2 separate regions of the Homo sapiens genome follow, and region 2 is linked to region 1. The links come from fine-mapping of genetic effects on gene expression. A gene starts in region 1. The other region holds a variant in brackets. All regions are shown on one strand. Distances are between the middles of the regions.

Region 1 (9,296 bases):
AGGGAGCCAGAGAAGGCCGGGAGAGCCACCATTAGACTGCAATGTAGGTTTAACCCTTGGGAAGGAGACAGCAAAGGAAAGACAGGCTTCCACTGAAGTACAGGTCTCAGAGAGTTTCTTTCAGGACCATGAGGAGTCCTTGAGCCAAACTCACCTATCGGGAGAGTCCCATGTCTTCCAGGAATGGGCCTGCCTGAGGATCCTCACTACATTTGATCACCAGCCTGGAGAAGCCCCTGGCAGCATGGCCTTGGCGCCAAGGATTCCAGAGCACACCAGCTGGGGCCATCTGGCAATTTCATACCCACCCCCTGCAGTTGGACATCTGAGAGGAACATTTTCATCACCACCATAGTACTCATTCTTAAGGCAGCTGTAGACACCTGTTCTGGATCATCTTAAATAGTGACTTAGTGAACTTCCCCAGTGACTCATACCAGTAAATGTCCATAGGTGGATTCATCCATCTCTGTTCCTAAATTAGAGTGTGGCTAATTCTTCCCAGATTCTTAAGGTCCTTAAAAGAAAGAATATATGGTACCACATTAAGTTAAGCTCATGACTGAAAATAATTTAAGAAGGAGGCCAGTGACTATTAATAGTAGCCCACAATTAGAAGGCATATGTATGAGTAACCCCTGCATCTGGCTTAGTGATAAACTGCAATTACTGCAGCAATTGCTCTCTATTTGACAAAAAATGGACTCATGTACCACTGGTAAAGATAATATTTCTGATTTGTGTTTGCCTCTTGTATATGCTGGACAATGAAGTATAATATTGTTTATGTATATTTATTACGTATAACCCAGAAAGAGTCTGTCATGGAAGCACAAGAAGTATGAGTTAGCCTGCCTGATTTAAGCTAATACAGATCTATCCTTGGAAATGGAGATGAATTCATTGTCCCCTGAATCTCATAAAGGAGAGGTGGATTATCTGATTTAAAAAAAAAATGGATTTGGTTAGAAAGGACAATAGGGGTAGTGTAGGGAATAGATGTTGAGGAGGCAACCACAGTGTTTACTAAATGGTGCTTTTAAAAAATCTTCCTCCACACTGTAGAATGGAATCCAAACTCCCTAGTATGGCAGCCAAAGTCCCTCTAAACCGAGCCCAAACTTCTCTTTAGAGCTAGCACTATGCAAGTTCTGCTAACAAGTTTCAGTCACTATGAACATTTTGTCTTTCTCAAATTAAGCCTTTCACATTCATATCTCTGTGCTTTGGAATCTTATACAGCCTCACATTGTAATACCTTCCCCTTTATCTCCCCGCAAATATACATTTTTCTAAGCTGAGTTTCTGTGTCACCTTCTGTGCACATTCTTCTCTAATCCTTTGATCAGAAATAATTGCTGCTTCTTTTATGTGCCCTTGCACCTGATTCGTAGCCAATTTTGGTATAGTTGTTTTCTTGTCTTTTTTCCTCTCTAGATTTACTGACCATAATAGCATTTCTATCTCCCAGAGTGCCTCACAGAATAAGTGTCCAGTAAGGATATGTTGACTTTCACTGAATGGCGTCTGTTTTCTCCCAAGTAAAAGGAAAGATCTGGGGCCTGCACCTTTGCATAAGCAGTAACCATTTCGAAGCTTATCCAACCCACCTTATTTTCGTTGTTGTTGTTGTTGTTCCGTTTTCTTTTATTTTAGGTTTCTAGCTGCCTGAACTCACGGTTTTTAGTTTCTGTCTCTAGTGAAAGGGGAAAAGAGGGATGAGGAAGGGGTTTTACTCGCCTAACCAAAAACAGAAACTAAGAACCCATGACTGTATTCTCTCTCGGACACCCTTTAGTCAGAACGTAAATGCTGGTTACCATCTTTAATCTTTTTTTTCTTCTTTTTTTTTTTTTTTTTTTTTTTTAGGAACCGTTATGCCGTTCCTATGTTGTTAGGTTCCATTCCTCAGGCAGCTCCTGCTCCCAAATGGCAGGTACTTTCTGCTCTCTGACCCTGGAAAAATCACCTTTGTTTAAAGCCCCTTTCTTCTATTAGAGCAACACCAAAATACTCTCAGGAGTTAATTTAGAACAATAGTAGTACTTTACCATGAGGAGTGAGGTTGATGTAGGTGGAGACTGGTTAAAACCTAAGAGTACAAACACACAAAAGATACCGAGCCAGCTTTTTGTTGTTGTTGTTGAGACGGAGTCTCGCTCTGTCGCCCAGGCTGGAGGGCAGTGGCATGATCTCTGCTCACTGCAACATCCGCCTCCCGGGTTCAAGCAATTCTCCTGCCTCAGCCTCCCGAGTAGCTGGGATTACAGGCCTGTGCCACCACGCCCGGCTAATTTTTGTATTTTTAGGAGAGACGGGGTTTCTCCATGTTGGCCAGGCTGGTCTTGAACTCCTGACCTCAGGTGATCCACCCACCTCGGCCTCCCAAAGTGCTGGGATTACAGGAGTGAGCCCCCGCACCCGGGCCTGAATCAGCTTTTAACGTGGAACTTTACTGACCCACTTTCTTTGATGTCCATCTCCCACTTCAGCTCCCAAAGGTCAGTTGTTCCCTGATATGAAGCCTAAGAACTCAACGTACTTCACCGCACGTTGGATTTCTAGCCGGAATTATTCCAAATTCTGGCAAGTCTTATCCACAATTTCTTTTCTGTGTAAGTTTCTCCTTGCTCTTTATTTCTGAAACCTGAATGTATTTGGTCCTCTGCCAATCAGATTTCCACTAGTCCTCCGAAGAGTCAGTTATTAACTCACTAATTCGACAGATATTTTTGGACGTTCACTATATCCTTATTTATTTAGCATATATTTAGTTATTTATTAAGAAACTAAAGCCTATTCTATGTCAGAAATGAAAATAGGCAATGAGGACTCAATGGTGGGCAAAATGCAGACAGACTACTTTTTTCCCCTCATTCTAGCACAGTCATCACTTTCCTAGGTAAGACGTTCCTAAACTCCAGACTACACCAAATCCTCCTCCTGACCACACCCTTCCACCTTGATTTTCACCTTCTGACCTCTCTTGCGTAGAAATTCGAGCACCAGCCACTCTATAGCTTTAGCTTAATTTCTCCAGCCATGCACGGACGAATCTGTGTTAGTGATGCCACAGGCACGTTTCCCTCCCAGCAAGAATATAACTTGCTGGGCAGCATTTCTGTGGATACTTTGAGAGAAAAATGCCCTAGTTGAGCACCCCGCACCATGGCCATAAGCATCCACCGGGCTCGAAGTGCATGGCCCGCAGCTGACCACTAGGGGGCAGCCCTCCACGCAGAGGCTCGAGCGACGGAGGCGACGCGGCGGCTACCGGCTCTGCTGAGCCCACCCCAAGATCGGAGGGAAGGGAGCCTGATTCCACGCGGGGCCTCCCCCGTGGCATACGTTGTTGTTAGGGAACTATTCGCCCCAAATATGGTTTATTGGAGACTTAGGGTTTGCTTTTCTTATCAAGTGCGACAGCAAACTGGCTGGGTCCCCTCTCGCATCCAAGAACCCGCAGAGACCCTGAGGGAGCCGGTTTGGGGCCCCATGCAGGCCAAAGCATCCCTCCGGGAAGGCGGGGTCGCTCACCTGGTAGGCGCCCCGAGAGCCCGCAGCACGGCCCGAGGTGGGGTCCACCGATGGAACGGGAGACCACGGGCGTGGCTCAGGGAGCGGTAGCCGCGCCCCGGGCCCGCCTCAGGGTCGGCTCCGCCTCACCCCAGCCTGTGCCCCGCCTCCGGGACAGCCCAGTTTCCGAGACCTCCTAGCCTCCAAGACAGCCCCGCCGCCAGAACAGCCTCTCCTCCAGGACCGGCCAGCCTACGAGAGAGCCCCGCCTACGGTACAACCCGCCTCCGGGACCGCAGGACTCCACCTCCGAGACAGCTCAGTCCCCAGGACAGTCCCGCCTCCGAGACGGCCCCGCCTCCAGGACGGCCCCTACCTCCGAGACCGCCCCGCCTCCGGGACCGCCCCGCCCCGCCTCGCCTCCGACCCGTCCCCCGCGCGCCACTGCAGAGCCTGTCCGTCAGTCCCTAGGTATCCGCACTGCTCAGGGGTGAGTTTTCCAATCCCAGCGGGTCCTGGGGTGGGGGCGGTAGCTGAGCACCTAGGGCACTGGGGGTCGCCGCAAAGTGCTGGAGGCCCCAGACCATACCCGGCGTCAGGGGGTGTCCCTCCCTTCTTAGGTCTAGGTCTTTGGTTTCATTTCGTTTTGTTAGTCTGGTGCTATTTGCAGTTTGTCTCAAAACACGTTTCTCCCTCCTATTTGAACTTGTAAATTACGAATTTGACAAAGATGTGCATGGTGTGTGCGTGCACGAGGGCACATTTCGTTGCGGAATGCTGGGTCAGCTTTCCGGGACATATTACTCATCTGAGGTTTTTTGTCTGTTTTTGTTTATCCTGTCAAACTGGTACTGCCCCAGAAGTGAAAGACGTCGCTTGTCTTCTGGGAGGTAGCTAGCACGATCTTGAGCTCAGGCTTCCGGATCTCTCTCGGCTGCTTTTTTCCACTGGTAACTTCTGAGGCTGAGATCAGGTACCCGCATTCTCAATGCTCTGCCGAGTATTGGCTCTCTTTTGTGAATTTCTTTCCCGCGAGCAGTATTAAGAAAAAGGTGGCGGATAGGAAGGGAAGAGGGGAAGAGATGGAATTCTACAGGAAATGCAGGGCATGCTCAGAATGCCAACCTTTCCGAGCTTGGAGAGATTTAGTGGAAGAAAGTAGCAGGAAAAACGTCCAGTAATCACTGGCATGCCAGACCCTGGAGAAGCCAGGCTGAGGCGCTCTGCAAGTTTCACCTTAGAGAGAGTGGACGAAATGTAACGGTTCTTGTTAGAGTTCTTGTAGAGGACGATTGTGGATGAGAATACATCCTGGGGACTAAAACCATATTGGTTTAGTCTGGAATGATTGCCAACTAAAGGGACTGATGTTTGAGAGAGATGGTGAGAGATTAACCAAATGAGGTGGTTGACTGCATATAGAAGCAGGAGGGAGAGAGGAAGGAGGCACTTGTGGCTCAAGGGCTTGGTGTGTGTTTTAGTTTAGATTCTGCCCTAAAGCAAAGCCTTATGCAAGGGCTTACCTGCAGGTAATTTTTTGGGGGTAAGTGAGACCAAAAAGCCCAAATGAGGAAGTGGAGAGAATGAGACAAGGAAAAAAGGGAAAGCCAGGAGGAGCATGTGGCTGAGGGTCTTCCACATGGCGCTCCTTTCCTCCGGGTGCCTTCCGAGGACCTCTGATGGGCACCTCGGGAAAGCCACGGGGCACTCTTCTGTGAATCCCCGCTCTACTGGGCGAAGCTCACCCTAGTGTCAACTCACCGCTACTTCAGGGCTGCCTTGTGCACCTGCAGAGGTGAGAAGCCATCAGAGCACAGAGGAAAGTCCCTTACAGTGGGCTCGTCAGAGACGCGCAAAGGGAGGCGGCACAGGCAGCCAGGGGACTACTGCACTACTGCAATCTGCAACGCTGCCCTCGGCAACCCGGGAAACTTAAAAGGACAGCAAAGGGACAGACACTCTCGTTTATTCCGTGCTCACTGTATGTGTACCAACCCCAGACAAGGCATTTTTAGACATATTCTTTGCTTTATTTTATTTTACTTTACTTTATTTTATTTTATTTTATTTTATTTTATTTTTTGAGGCAGAGTCTTGTTCTCTCGCACAGGCTAGAGTCCACTGGTGCGATATCGGCTCACTGCAACCTCCGCCCCCCACCGTCAGGGTTCAAGAAATTCTCATGACTCAGCCTCCCCAAGTGGCTGGGATTACAGGTGCACGCCACCATGCCCAGCTATTTTTTGTAGATTTAGTAGAGACAGGTTTCGCCATGTTGGCCAGGCTGGTCTCAAACTCCTGAGCTCAGGTGATCCACCGGCCTCGGCCTCCTAAAGTGCTGGGATTACAGACATAAGCCACTGCGCCTGGCCTATCCATATTCCTTTAATCTTCAAAAACAATCTTCCCATGGCTGTATTATTCTCTTTTTGTAGATGGGGAAACTGAGACTGAAGTCATTTATCCAAGAGGGGCTGCTTAAAGGGACAAATAGTCTCAGTGTTAGGCACAGCCAATTTTAAAAGACCTCCGGAAACTGCATAATGCTACCAAATAGAGGAGGGTCCTCTCCATTAGGGCAGATTTGATAAATTAGGGGGCACTTTCCAACTTAGCAAAGCTGTCAGAAGAAAGGCATGTTTTGACAGGTCTATGACCTTTCTGTTCAAAAAAATCAAGCACTGTGTCCACTCAGGCACACGAACTTAACTATCACCTTGATTTACTGGCCCTGCAGGATCTAGCCCGTCCCTCCCTCCTCCTGGGGTCCTGCTCCTCCCTGCTCCTGGCTCTCAGCCACCCCAAAGTGGTCTCGTTGCTGGAATGCCCTTTGCTCACTGCATTTCAGGTTTCAGCTTCAATGCCACTTTGTCAGAGTCCTTTCCTATCACCCAATCTAAAGTAGTCTTCCAGTTCCTCCATGTCACATCATTGTGTTTTATTTTCATCATAGTGATTGTTGCATTTTATTTATCTGTTTATCTACCTATTTATTCATTATCTTTCTCCTTCTAAAATATTCAAATCACGAAAAGGGAAACCTTATCTGTTTTGTTTCTTGCTGTACTCCCAGTGCTAGAACAGTGCTTGGCCCACAATGGGGAATCCAGTAAAATTTGGAGGTGAATGCATTTAGTTGTTTGCTTTTTTCACCTGTTCCTTCATCTGTTCTGACCAGCAGTGCTTATCAGTATCTCTTAAATACATGAAAGTCTTTGCTTCCCCCTGCAGCAGCTGATAGAACCATGGCGACCATTGCTGCTGCTGCGTTTGAGGCCCTCATGGATGGAGTGACATGCTGGGATGTCCCCAGAGGCCCCATCCCCAGTGAACTCCTTCTTATTGGAGAAGCCGCCTTCCCCGTGATGGTGAATGACAAGGGCCAGGTGCTCATTGCTGCCTCCTCCTACGGCCGAGGCCGCCTCGTGGTTGTGTCCCATGAGGGCTACCTGTCGCATGCTGGCTTGGCTTCATTTCTCCTCAATGCAGTGAGCTGGCTCTGTCCCTGTCCTGGGGCTCCCGTGGGAGTGCGTCCATCCCTGGCACCTCTAGTAAACATCCTACAGGATGCTGGGCTTGAGGCACAGGTCAAGCCAGAACCAGGAGAGCCCCTAGGGGTTTACTGTATCAATGCCTACAATGACACCTTGACTGCAACGCTGATCCAGTTTGTGAAACATGGAGGGGGCTTGTTAATCGGGGGCCAGGCCTGGTACTGGGCCAGCCAGCACGGCCCTGACAAGGTGCTCTCCAGGTTCCCTGGGAACAAGGTGACAAGTGTAGCCGGAGTGTACTTCACTGACACCTATGGGGACAGAGACCGGTTCAAGGTCTCTAAGAAGGTGCCCAAGATCCCACTCCATGTCAGGTGAGTGTTTGTTCCCCTCTTAGGGAGTCTGACTCAGGATAAACAATAGAGTTGGTTCCCCTCTTCAACAAGCTTCCATTGCAATACAGGTGATTTTCCACTCAGTTTGGAACCACCACAAATCAAAAGCAGGATGATTAAAATGCACCAAGACACAAGAGAGGCTGGGCCCTCACTGCCACTCCCTCCTGTGGCCAAAGCTGAATAGAAAAGCTTGTCTTACCACTTTATCTCCATGTCTAGTAAATAGAACCTAGAGAGTGCTCATCAATACCTCTTAAATGCATGAAAGAATATTTGTTTGTTTGTGTGAGCACCGATTGTTGATCATGCTGCATTCTGGACAATGGGGGTCTAGCAGAGATCGAGGCAGGCAAGTCATGCCATCATGAGGTTTGTATTCCAGGGGAGAGATAGGTATTAAGGAAACTAATATATATGTGCTCTATCAGGTATTGCTAAGATCCATGAAAGATGATAATATAAGTGGATAGCATGACAACAGGAAGGCTGATGGAGGCTATTTTATTTAAGATGTTCAGGGAAGTCCTATCAGTCAGACCAAGTTGGATTGGTCAGGATTTGTTGGCGTTGCTAGCAGAAGGGATTTAGTATGGGGAATTGACTATACCCATGATAGAGGAGCTGAAAATACACACAGGGGACAGCAAGTAACCCAGAGATCAGCAACAGCAGAACCAGCAGAGGGAGATGGTGGTATTACTGAAGTCCAGGTGCTGCGGCCACCTGGTAGAAGCTGGAGCCATGCTATGCCTTCCCAGCAGGAGCTGGAACCACAGATGAAAGGTCTGTCTGCTAGAAGCTGGAGTCTCAGAGAAGACACTGTGGTTACCAGAAATACAGCCTGAAGAGAGAAGCAAGCACTTAAACTCCTTCCTTCTTCCTTCCTGATTTCAGTCTTCTACCTCTCTCTCCCATGGGCTGAACCCACCAGGATCCAGGGAACAGGAGAACCAAAGAAATGCAGTTTTCTGCAACACGGAGGATGACCAAGATGAAAGGGGAATAGAGATGAGTGCAAACAAGCTCATGGCCGGCTTGGAAGGCTGGTCTGGTAGGTAGCACTTGAAAGGAGACCTCAAGGAAGTGAGGGAATGAGCCATGTGGGCATCTGTGAGAGGAAGATTCCAGGCAGAGTGAGGAGTGAGGGTGAGAAAACCTGGAAGGGAAGCCTGCTTAGTATGTTCCAAGGGAAAGGGAGTGGCCCTTCTATAAGGTCGGAAGGCTCTGCAAAGCTCCAGGGGAGAATAGCTGAAGGCAGCTGTTCTGTGACCCTGAGGCAGAGGGCAAGGAGTAGGTACAAGGGAGTGTAGGAGAATTTGTCTTGATCAAGCCTGTTTGTTTGAAGTTGTCCAGGAGCTGACATTTGAACATCCGCACACATGATGTTCTCTGAATGAGGAACAATAAATGTTAGTCATTTACAGATTGTGTAGGCTCCAGGCTTTCGGCATTATGCCTGCAGTAAATAAAAGCAAGCAGCTTCAGCTTCTCGGGGCTGCTCTCTGGCCACTACAGCCAGGCAGTCACCTAGCTGTTCTTACACTGCATACTTGTGTCTGAGTACTCATTTCATCCATTGGCCAGGGACACACCTGGCAATCAGGGAAGCCAGAATGATGGGAACTCAGTGAATGATAGCTCAGGTCATGTAAGAACTGACAGGCCAGGAGTAGAACTTTAGACCTTATTTGCAGTGAGATGGGAAGACATTTTGTATTCTCTACAGAAGATTGCTATGATGTGACTTAAATTTCAAAAGGAACCCTCTGATTGATGGTGGAGAACAGACTGTGGGAGGCAAAGATTGAAGCAGCAGACCAATCGGGAGGCCACTGAAGTAGACCACAGGAGAGATGGTGGTGGCCCAGACAAGACTGATAGAAGCTGT
Region 2 (9,296 bases), 110 kb after region 1:
CAAAGTCATGTTAACAGCTGCTACTAAGTCTATATGCCCATTCGTTCATACCACAAAACAGGCATCTGACTCCTCTGGTCACCATGGAATCAAGGCACTGTCAAGTGGTGGGGGGTCCACAGGCACAGTGGGCTTCACTCTGGAACAGGATTACTGGGTGCAGCGGATGTAATCCTCACTTAATCAACCCACACCCCAGCATCCCCTGAGCTTTCTCTTAATCTCATTCTAGCCCATCTTGACTCTTCGGTTAGAGGGAGTTCTCATTGGAGATTTGTCTCTGGGATTAATGAGTGTATGCCTAGCTACTTTCTCCAGTTTACTTTTAGACCATATTGTTGTTTGTTTTGAATATCATTCCTTAGGCTATGTTGAGAGTAGAGTGGCTTCCCATTAGGAGAACTAATTTAGGGCATGTCTTTTGCTGAATCCCGTCAGCATATTTAACAAATTCCCAATTCTAGATAATTTCCTTTTATTTCTCTAGTACCCTTTGCCAGGGGCTCTACACATCAAAGGTGTTCATGAAGTATTTGTCAAAGGAAAGAACAGTAATGACACCTAACACATAATGAGTGATTAGTATGTTCCAGGCATTGCGTGAGCTATTTACTGTGAGTGATTTAATGTTATCTTCCCAGCAGACCTCTGAGGTAGGTACTAGTATGATCCCCATTTCGTACATGAGGAAACTGACACTAAGGGACATAAAATAAGTTTTTTGAAGTCACAAAGTGAATAAAAGGAAGAACCAGGGTTTAATTGAAGCCCATAGCAATGAAAACATTGTGGAACTTATTCTTCATGAATGGTTTACAATTTAAACAAAATGTCACCTAGAAAATAGATGAAAATATGTTCAACCAGGTCTGGATTTTTCCAATGTTTACTACTGAATTTTCATTCAATAACAAGTTTAACTTCCAAAAAGGTGTTGGTATCTGATTTTCTGCCTGCCTCAGAATGTGATTTGTCTGCCTTTGGGTCATCCAGCCTTGGGTAGAGAAGGAATTTGAACTCAGGAAATTCAACTCCAGAACTGATGTTCTTTTTTTTTTTTCATTTAAGTTCTGGGATACATGTGCAGAACGTGCAGGTTTGTTACATAGGTATACATGTGCCATGGTGGTTTGCTGCACCTATCAATCCATCATCTAGATTTTAAGCTCTGCATGCATTAGATATTTGTCCTAATGCTCTCCCTCCCATTGCCCCCAACCTCCCGACAGGCCCCAGTGTGATGTTTCCCTCCCTGTGTCCATTTGTTCTCATTTTTCATCTCCCACTTATGAGTGAGAACATGTGTTGTTTGGTTTTCTGTTCCTGTGTTAGTTTGCTGAGAATTATGGCTTCCAGCTTCATCCATGTCCCTGCAAAGGACATGAACTCATTCTTTTTCATGGCTGCATGGTATTCAATGGTATATATGCCATATTTTCTTTATCCAGTCTATCATTGGTGGGCATTTGGGTTGGTTCCAAGTCTTTGCTATTGTAAATAATGCTGCAATAAAAGTATGTGTGCATGTGTCTTTATAGTAGAATGGTTTATAGTCCTTTGGGTGTATATCCAGTAATGGGATTGCTGGGTCAAATGGTATTTCTGGTTCTAGATCTTTGAGGAATCATCACATTGTCTTCCACAATGGTTGAACTAATTTACACTCCCAACAACAGTGTAAAAGCATTCCTGTTTCTCCACAGCCTCACCAACATCTGTTGTTTCCTGACTTTTTAATGATCGCCATTCTAACTGGCATGAGATGGTACCCCATTGTGGTTTTGATTTACATTTCCCTAATGACCAGTAATGATGAGCTTTTTTTCATGTTTATTGGCCACATAAATGTCTTCTTTTGAGAAGTGTCTGTTCATATCCTTTGCCCACTTTTTGATGTGTTTTTGTTGTTGTTGTAAATTTGTTTAAGTCCCTTGCAGATTCTGGATATCAGAACTTGTCAGATGGGTAGCTTGCAAAAATTTTCTCCCATTCTGTAGGTTGCAGAACTGGTGTTCTCAACAGTGATGTTAGGGTAAAATGATGGATACTGCTGGGTTTAATAGATTGCCCTAGAAACAGAGACAATGTCTGGCTTCTTACACACACACACACTTCCTGGTAGAAGTTGGAGCCTGTAGCTCCTTGTCTCTCATACAGAGAGACTGTGACTTTGCCTCTTGTTTTTAAGTTGATAGTTAATTGTAACTGCAGTATTCTCAGATTCTTTTGTCTATTCACAGAAACTAATTTGCTGCCAGTGATAGGGATGATCCATGATTTCTGAGACATTTACTTCCATAATTTCACAGTTCTAAGTCTAGAAAAATTATTAGAAGAAAATTATTGGATGGTCTTGGAACCAACCCAAAGAAAAAAACATGTCCTGTGAACAGTAGGATAGATACTGAATGTAGCTTGTCTCACTTTGGAACTAGTGCTTATAATTTCCCTTGGACTGTATATTTTTGTCCAATCACTACTGTACAGGACATGGGTTTGGTTTGCTTTTCCCTCCCATGAGCCACTCAATTGCTTTGCTAAAAGCCCCATCAGTTTTCCTTTGGTTTCCTTTGGTACACCAACATCAACACAGAGTCCACTTGGTTTGGAAGGGGTTGGCCCACACTGTTGGCAGGAGTGGGCACAGAATCCATGCTCATCTAATTGTCCATACCTTCCAACAAGGATTGGTTCAAGTGATGGGAAGGTGGCCCTTGCCAGGGTGATGAAGTGCATACGACAGACTTTTACTGGCTGTACTGGGAAGCATACATTTTCTTTGGTACTGGAGAATTGGTAATGACAGTGCCAAATGTTGTTTGTTATTGAAGCTAAGTGAAGGGGCTCTTGAAGGATCCTTATTCAACTTTTGCCTATGTTTAGAAATTTTGTAGTAAAATTGTAATGGTGTAAGTCTACTATTTATACCTATAGAAGTAAAAGACTTTTGCCAGGTGCAGTGGTTCACGCCTGTAATCCCAACACTTTGGCAGGCCGAGGCGGGTGGATCACGAGGTCAGGAGTTCGAGACCAGCCTGGCCAATATGGTGAAACCACATCTCTACTAAAAAAAATGCAGAATTAGCTGGGTGCAGTGGCTCATGCCTGTAGTCCCAGCTACTCAGGAGGCTGAGGCAGGAGAATCGCTGGAGGTTGCAGTGAGCTGAGATCGCGCCACTGCACTGTAGCCTGGACAATAGAGTGAGACTCCGTCCAAAAAAAAGAAAAAAGAAAAGAAAAAAAGAGAAGTAGAAGACTTGTTTTTTTTAAGTTTTGAAACAATTTCTTAGGGAGAGTAGGATTGAAAGAGTAGAGAAACAGGGGAGATAAAGACAGAGTAGGGTTTGGGCAGATTCCTGTTGTTTTTCTTATAAGCTCTTTGTTAGTAATTTAATATTGTATTTCTACCACATATGTTTTCTACCCTATGCAAGCATGACACCTTTTAAACAAGATAGATATAAACTGTATTAAAATTTACAACACAGCTTGCATGCCAACATAGTCTTCCATGATTTGGTCTCTGCGAGTGTTTCCAGATTTGCCTCCCACCTCTATCCCTTGCTTTCTTTATTCCAGCTGTGATGCACACATTTCAGCGTGAATGCGGCCCTCCTTCTCATTTCTACAGATTGTTCTGTGCTCCTGGGTCATTCCTTTCTTCCACCTGTCCTTCCCTCCACTTCACAATAGAATAGAGAAGTTTCTGATGTTTGGGCTTCCTTTTGGGTAGAACAACAACAAAAGTCAACTAGAAAAATGTCCTTTTTTAGAGT[T/C]ATATTTTCAGAGTGAGGACTCATTTATCATTTATATTTATCATAAGAAATTAAAACATTTTCACTTTTTGTTTTTTCCTGTTAAATCTTTAAGTATCTTTAACCAGGACTTAATTAAACTTGAATGGTCTGCAATCTTTTTCAAATGTGAATAATTTCAATGTATATTTTCTCCATTTGCTAAATTTGGTAAAATAGTGTTTAGTGTTGTATTTTTAATAAAACAAAACCTGCCCTGTGGAGAAGGGACACACTTTGTGGACGTGCCATTTGGGTCACACACAAAGGTGGGCCACTGGGGTGCCACCACTGAGCCAGCCAGGATAGCAAGAGCGACATTCTCTAATTCACACAGAGGCATTTTATGAGCTAGTGGTGGCCTTGGAGAAGGGACGGCACTTCTCTATATTACTTTGGATTGGGGTATCAGTATTTTTAAGGTTTTCTTTTTTTCTTCAGCTCTTAACCCAGAGGTCATTTCCTCGAGCCGTGTCTCTAAGCCTCATGTTCCGATAAAACCTGTAACTTCCTTTATATATCAGTCATCACATTTGTAATTATTTGTTTAAAATCTCTCTTTCCCACTACATGGAAGCTTCATAGGGGCAGGGACTAGACCTACCCTATTCACAGCTGTATCTACAGCCCCAAGGGCAGGGCCTGTCACATATCAGTTTTGGTGTAGGGGTCTATTGTATTAACACATTACTAACAAGAGTGTATGATAATGGGAGAAGACTAGATGAGGATTTCCAACTATTGTATATGTTTGCTGTCTTTAGGCGGATCACCTGAGGTCTGGCGTTCCACACCAGCCTGGCCAACATGACAAAACCCTGTCTCTACTGAAAATACAAAAATTAACTGGGTGTGGTGGCACATGCCTGTAATTCCAGCTACTTGGGAATCTGAGGCAGGAGAATCACTTGAATCCGGGAGGCGGAGGTTGCCCTGAGCTGAGATCGTGCCACTGCACTCCAACCTGGGCAAAAGAGTGAGACTCTGTCTCAAAAAAAAAAAAAAGAAAAGAAAAAGAAAGAAGAAGAAGAAGAAAAGACCTCTGTTATTTATCCCTATTCAAGAAAATGGTTTCACTATTCCAGAAAGAAGCTTTAGTGTGATTAGAACCATTCTCCTATTTTTAGCTTCTGAAAACAGGCTGCACTGTGAGAGTGAATTTTCCATTAATTCTTATTTCTCCTTTTCCTTGGGACTTGGTCAGTGAATAGTATAAGCTATTTTCAGGAGTTTCTGTATTTTGGTGAAAAAAGTATTTATCTGACATTTCCTGGGCCCTATTTCTACTACATTTCGATGTCAATTCCTCTCCTCTGCTAACATTTCCAGCCAAAGTTAACTACAGTGTAGATACTTTCATTTTGAATTAACATTTTTCCTGTTCTGCCATGTTATTAGGTTCTGGAACAGGGATATATCCCACAATAACAGTAATGACAAATTAAGACCCCCCTAAAAAAAATTCAAATTATTTTATATGGCCTCCCAGCTCCAAAACAAGGCAGCTGAGATGCCTATACATGGCACCTTCATACCGGTACATCTATCTGTTAGTCTCCATTTCTGTAGAAGAAAACAAAAAGATGCTATTAGCCTACTTCAAATTGTTGTTCCACTTTTGAATCTAACCTAGTTTCCTATGATAAGTTATTTCTTCAGGCCCCTAGGCTGTCTTCACCAGAAACTTTGAAATAGAAACCAGACCTTTCTGAGTATTGCTCAGGTACATCTCTGATACACTGATTCATCTAAGATCAAAAGTGCCCCCCGCTAATATGGCCTCAGCAGCACGTAGCTAGCACATGAACAGCAGGTCAGCCAAGACGTTAAATGTGGTCAAGGTTTCCAAAGAAGGAGAGCTACTTTTCAGTCAATGCTATCTCCTTATAGGCATGGCATGATTGCGTTTCTCAGGATATTATTTTCATGAACTTGTTCCTGCTGCAAGGTCTTTAGTACCATGCCTGGCTTCCATTTTGAAAAGCCTTCTTGTGCAAGATTGGTGCACTTCCCAGTTCTGGTAGGAGGACAGTTTGGTCCCGTACTCAGCTTGCAGAAGTTCCTACATTTTCTACACACAACTCTTTGTACTGATTCACTTTTCATTTGGGAAAGCCATGAGAAACTTTTTTCATAAAAAAATATAACCATCATCTCTATAAACTCTTCAAGATGATAAAGGGAGAGAGCATCATTTTGCAATGTTAAGCATAGGTTGGGAAAAATGGTGTTGAGAAAAAATTAAGATAGAAATTGTAAACTATCTCTCAAGCTGGAGATCTAGAGAACAAAGAAGTTGAGTAACAGATGGAGAGAAAAAGTCCTCACCCTGAGGAGTAACCAAGAGCTTACCTGAGGAACAGCTTCCCAGACACCACTTCAAATATCATATTACCTCATATCAAGAGGATAAACCCAAAGGCAGCCCAATGGAGCAGTTTGATAAGCCATTTCTGTTTTAAAATTCAATAAGAAAGATCCCTTTGTTTCTTTTTCCTAGGCTACCAACAAATTTATAAAATGTTCTTGAATGTATTGTCCTTTTCATCAAGAATAATCTGAAAAAAACCCAATCATCTTTATTGTGCAGTACAGATGGAAGGGGAGAATTAACAACAACAAAGCCACTGCTTTTTATTCCTAGGCCCTTAATAGCCCTAAAACAACTAACTGTCTGTATTAGTTCATTTTCACATTGCTATGAAGAAATACCCAAGACTGAGTAATTTATAAAGGAAAGACGTTTAGTTGGCTCACAATTTTGCAAGCCTGGGGCAGTCTCAGGAAACTTACAATCATCGCGAAAAGGAAAGCAAGCATGTCTTACATGGTGGCAGGTGAGTGATGAGAGAGCAAGAGAGAAACTACCAAACACTTAATAAAACATCGGATCTCTTCAGAACTCACTCACTATCACGAGAACAGCATGGGGGGGAACTGGCCCCCATGATCCAATCACCTCCAACCAGCTCTCTCCCTCAACACCTAGGTATTACAATTCAAGGTGATATTTGGGTGGGGACACAAAGCCTGGCCATATCACTCTCTGTTGCTAAAAAAGAAAAACTTAGGTGGAGATTTGGAAATTAAAGTCCAGTGTAATTGGCCCCACTGTGGAGAACCAAGCCATGCAAGGACACTCACAATGATGAAAAAAAAATTCTCAGCACTTAGGTAAGGCACTCAGTTGGAACAATGCTTTCCTGGGTCTGCAGACTGGAACCTAAGCAGCTGTGTGCTTCACTTAGATAAATACATATTCAATGCATGAGACTGATTCACCCTCACAAATGATACTTCTTTTAATAGGATCATGCAGTCTACTCCCAGCCACATAGTTTTTGTCTTAAATAACAAATCATTTGAACAGGTAGTTAAAATGAGGACCATTCAGGTTTGAATTAGTAAAGTTACATATGGGAAGATTCCGTGAATTATTGTAGCAGACGGGAGTTATAACAAAAAATATATTGTGCATTTATATAATTTCATAATCCCATTCAAGCAATGACCCTAAAAATCTATTTTCCAGACCACATTTACTCCCAAGGATATCAGTGTAAGTTAGGTGAATCATCAATAAACCGCTTCTTTTCAGAAACTGTTTTAAGTGCTTTTATATTTATTTATGCTCACAACATTCCTACAGAGTAAGTACAATTACACTCTTCATTTTGCTGAGAACTAGTAAGCTGTGAAGCCACATTTCCAACCCTAGAAGTTGGAGCCCACACTCTCAGCCAGCATACTGTCCTATGGAGTTACTGGATCTGCCATCGCCTGTAACTCTGCCTGCATTAGACTATGTGTCTGAATACTGAATCACAGAGCAAGCAGAGTCCAACTGCCAAAACCAATCAGGTTATTCCTAGTTACACAAAAAGCAGTTACTTTACAGTAAAGGTCATTCATCCAAGGAACACTTCGCTCAGGATATACAATTGATTTTTTTTCCAATACCAAGACCGTGTCCAACCTAGACTGGAGGGTTTTAAAGATTCTGCGATTCAAAATAAGAGCTTGATGGAGTCTTAGAGGAAGCAGGTCTTACACTCAAGGTTTTTATCCTTTTTAAGGATGCCCCAACTCCTCTCATTATGTCTAAAAGCATTGGATAAGGGACCACATACGTTCCCATAGGTTATTAGCTCCAATAGCTGTAAAATCTAAATTCCCAACAAACTGGAGACATTTCAAGAGGCAGAAATCACCCTAGAATACTTTAGGGAAATAATAATGGTCACTTTTAAGTTTTAAAGAAGTGGGTTTTTATTGTTGTTGTTGGTGGTGGTGGTTTTGTTTGTTTTTGAGATGGAGTCTCGCTCTGTTGCCCAGGCTGGAGTGCAGTCATGAAATCTCAACTCACTGCAATCTCTGCCTTCTGCATTCAAGTGATTCTCCTGCCTGAGCCTCCCAAATAGCTGGGTCAACAAGTGTTTGCCACCATGCCCAGCTAATTTTTGTATTTTTAGTAGATACAGGGTTTGGCCATGTTGGTCTCGAACTCCTGCCTCACATGATCCACCTAGCCTCGGCCTCCCAGAGTGCTGGGATTGCCGGCATGAGCAACAGCGACCAGCCTTAAAGATGACCCTACCTTTATTTAAAATGACCCTGCTTGTATTTCCTCCCCTGAATGCCTTAAAGTCCCTGACTTATTTGAAAACTTAGTATTTCGAAACAGTTTCAGAAAAAATTAAAGCCTTAGTGGTTGGTCACACTAAATGGGACCGTCAAAGCTCCTACTGCTCACAAATATTGTTAAAATGGAATAACACGCACTGCTAAAGGGAATTAAAGTCACTCCTATCTTGAATGAACCCTCGACATTTTAAGTTCTGTGTCCTCTGCATAGAATCTTTGTTCTTTGTCTCTCCCTTGTGGCCATTTAGAAAACCTTTCAGCTCCTGATCACCAGTTGAAACAGTGAAATTGTTCCCATTGTGGCAAACACAGTCTCTTGCCGTGGTTTTAATTTAAAAGAGATATTTATGTTACCCTTCCCATGAAGCAATTGACTGGTCAATATGCTCTCTACTTGTGTTATCCATAAAAATTTCCCAAACCAATTTACTTTTAGTGTCAGAAGATGCAACCCAACAATATTCTTTTTTTAATGAAATACACTGTGCTCATAAAAAATGTATCTAAAAGCATATGTACAATTTAAATAATAATTAGAAAGGGAACAATCAGATCAGCAACAGATTAAGAAATAGAATGTTGCCAATAATTGAAGTCCTCCATATGTTCCTCCAAGTTCATTGTCCCTCTCCTACCACCAGATGGAACACTAATCTGACTTCTGTGATCATTCCTTTTGCTCCTTTAGTTTTACTACCTATGTGCACAAACTTAAACTACATAGTTTAGTTTTAACTTGTTTTAAACTGTATAAGAATACAAGAAAGTTATATTATATGTAATCTTTTATGACTTGCTTCTTTAGTGCAATACTGTGACATCGTCTGTGTTGATTTGTGTAGCTCTACTTCATTTTTC

Evidence for each region.
Region 2: its variant is fine-mapped to the expression of TCAF2 in whole blood (TOPMed, PIP above 0.99).

Annotation. Positions count from the first base shown.
Region 1 is chr7:143,617,015-143,626,310 of GRCh38, forward strand. It overlaps TCAF2 (TRPM8 channel associated factor 2), which reads left to right and starts at 3,960. Exons shown (of 8, transcript NM_001363538.2): 1 at 3,960-4,006. LOC101928466 (a long non-coding RNA gene) reads right to left here and starts at 1,695. Exons shown (of 4, transcript XR_007060573.1): 1 at 155-1,695. RefSeq lists a silencer at 3,865-4,024.
Region 2 is chr7:143,728,552-143,737,847 of GRCh38, forward strand. TCAF2 (TRPM8 channel associated factor 2) reads left to right here. Exons shown (of 8, transcript NM_001363538.2): 8 at 1-1,859. Among named protein-coding and RNA genes, the nearest start is that of CTAGE6, 24 kb to the right of the region's middle. The variant T/C (reference allele first, on the strand shown) is at 3,777.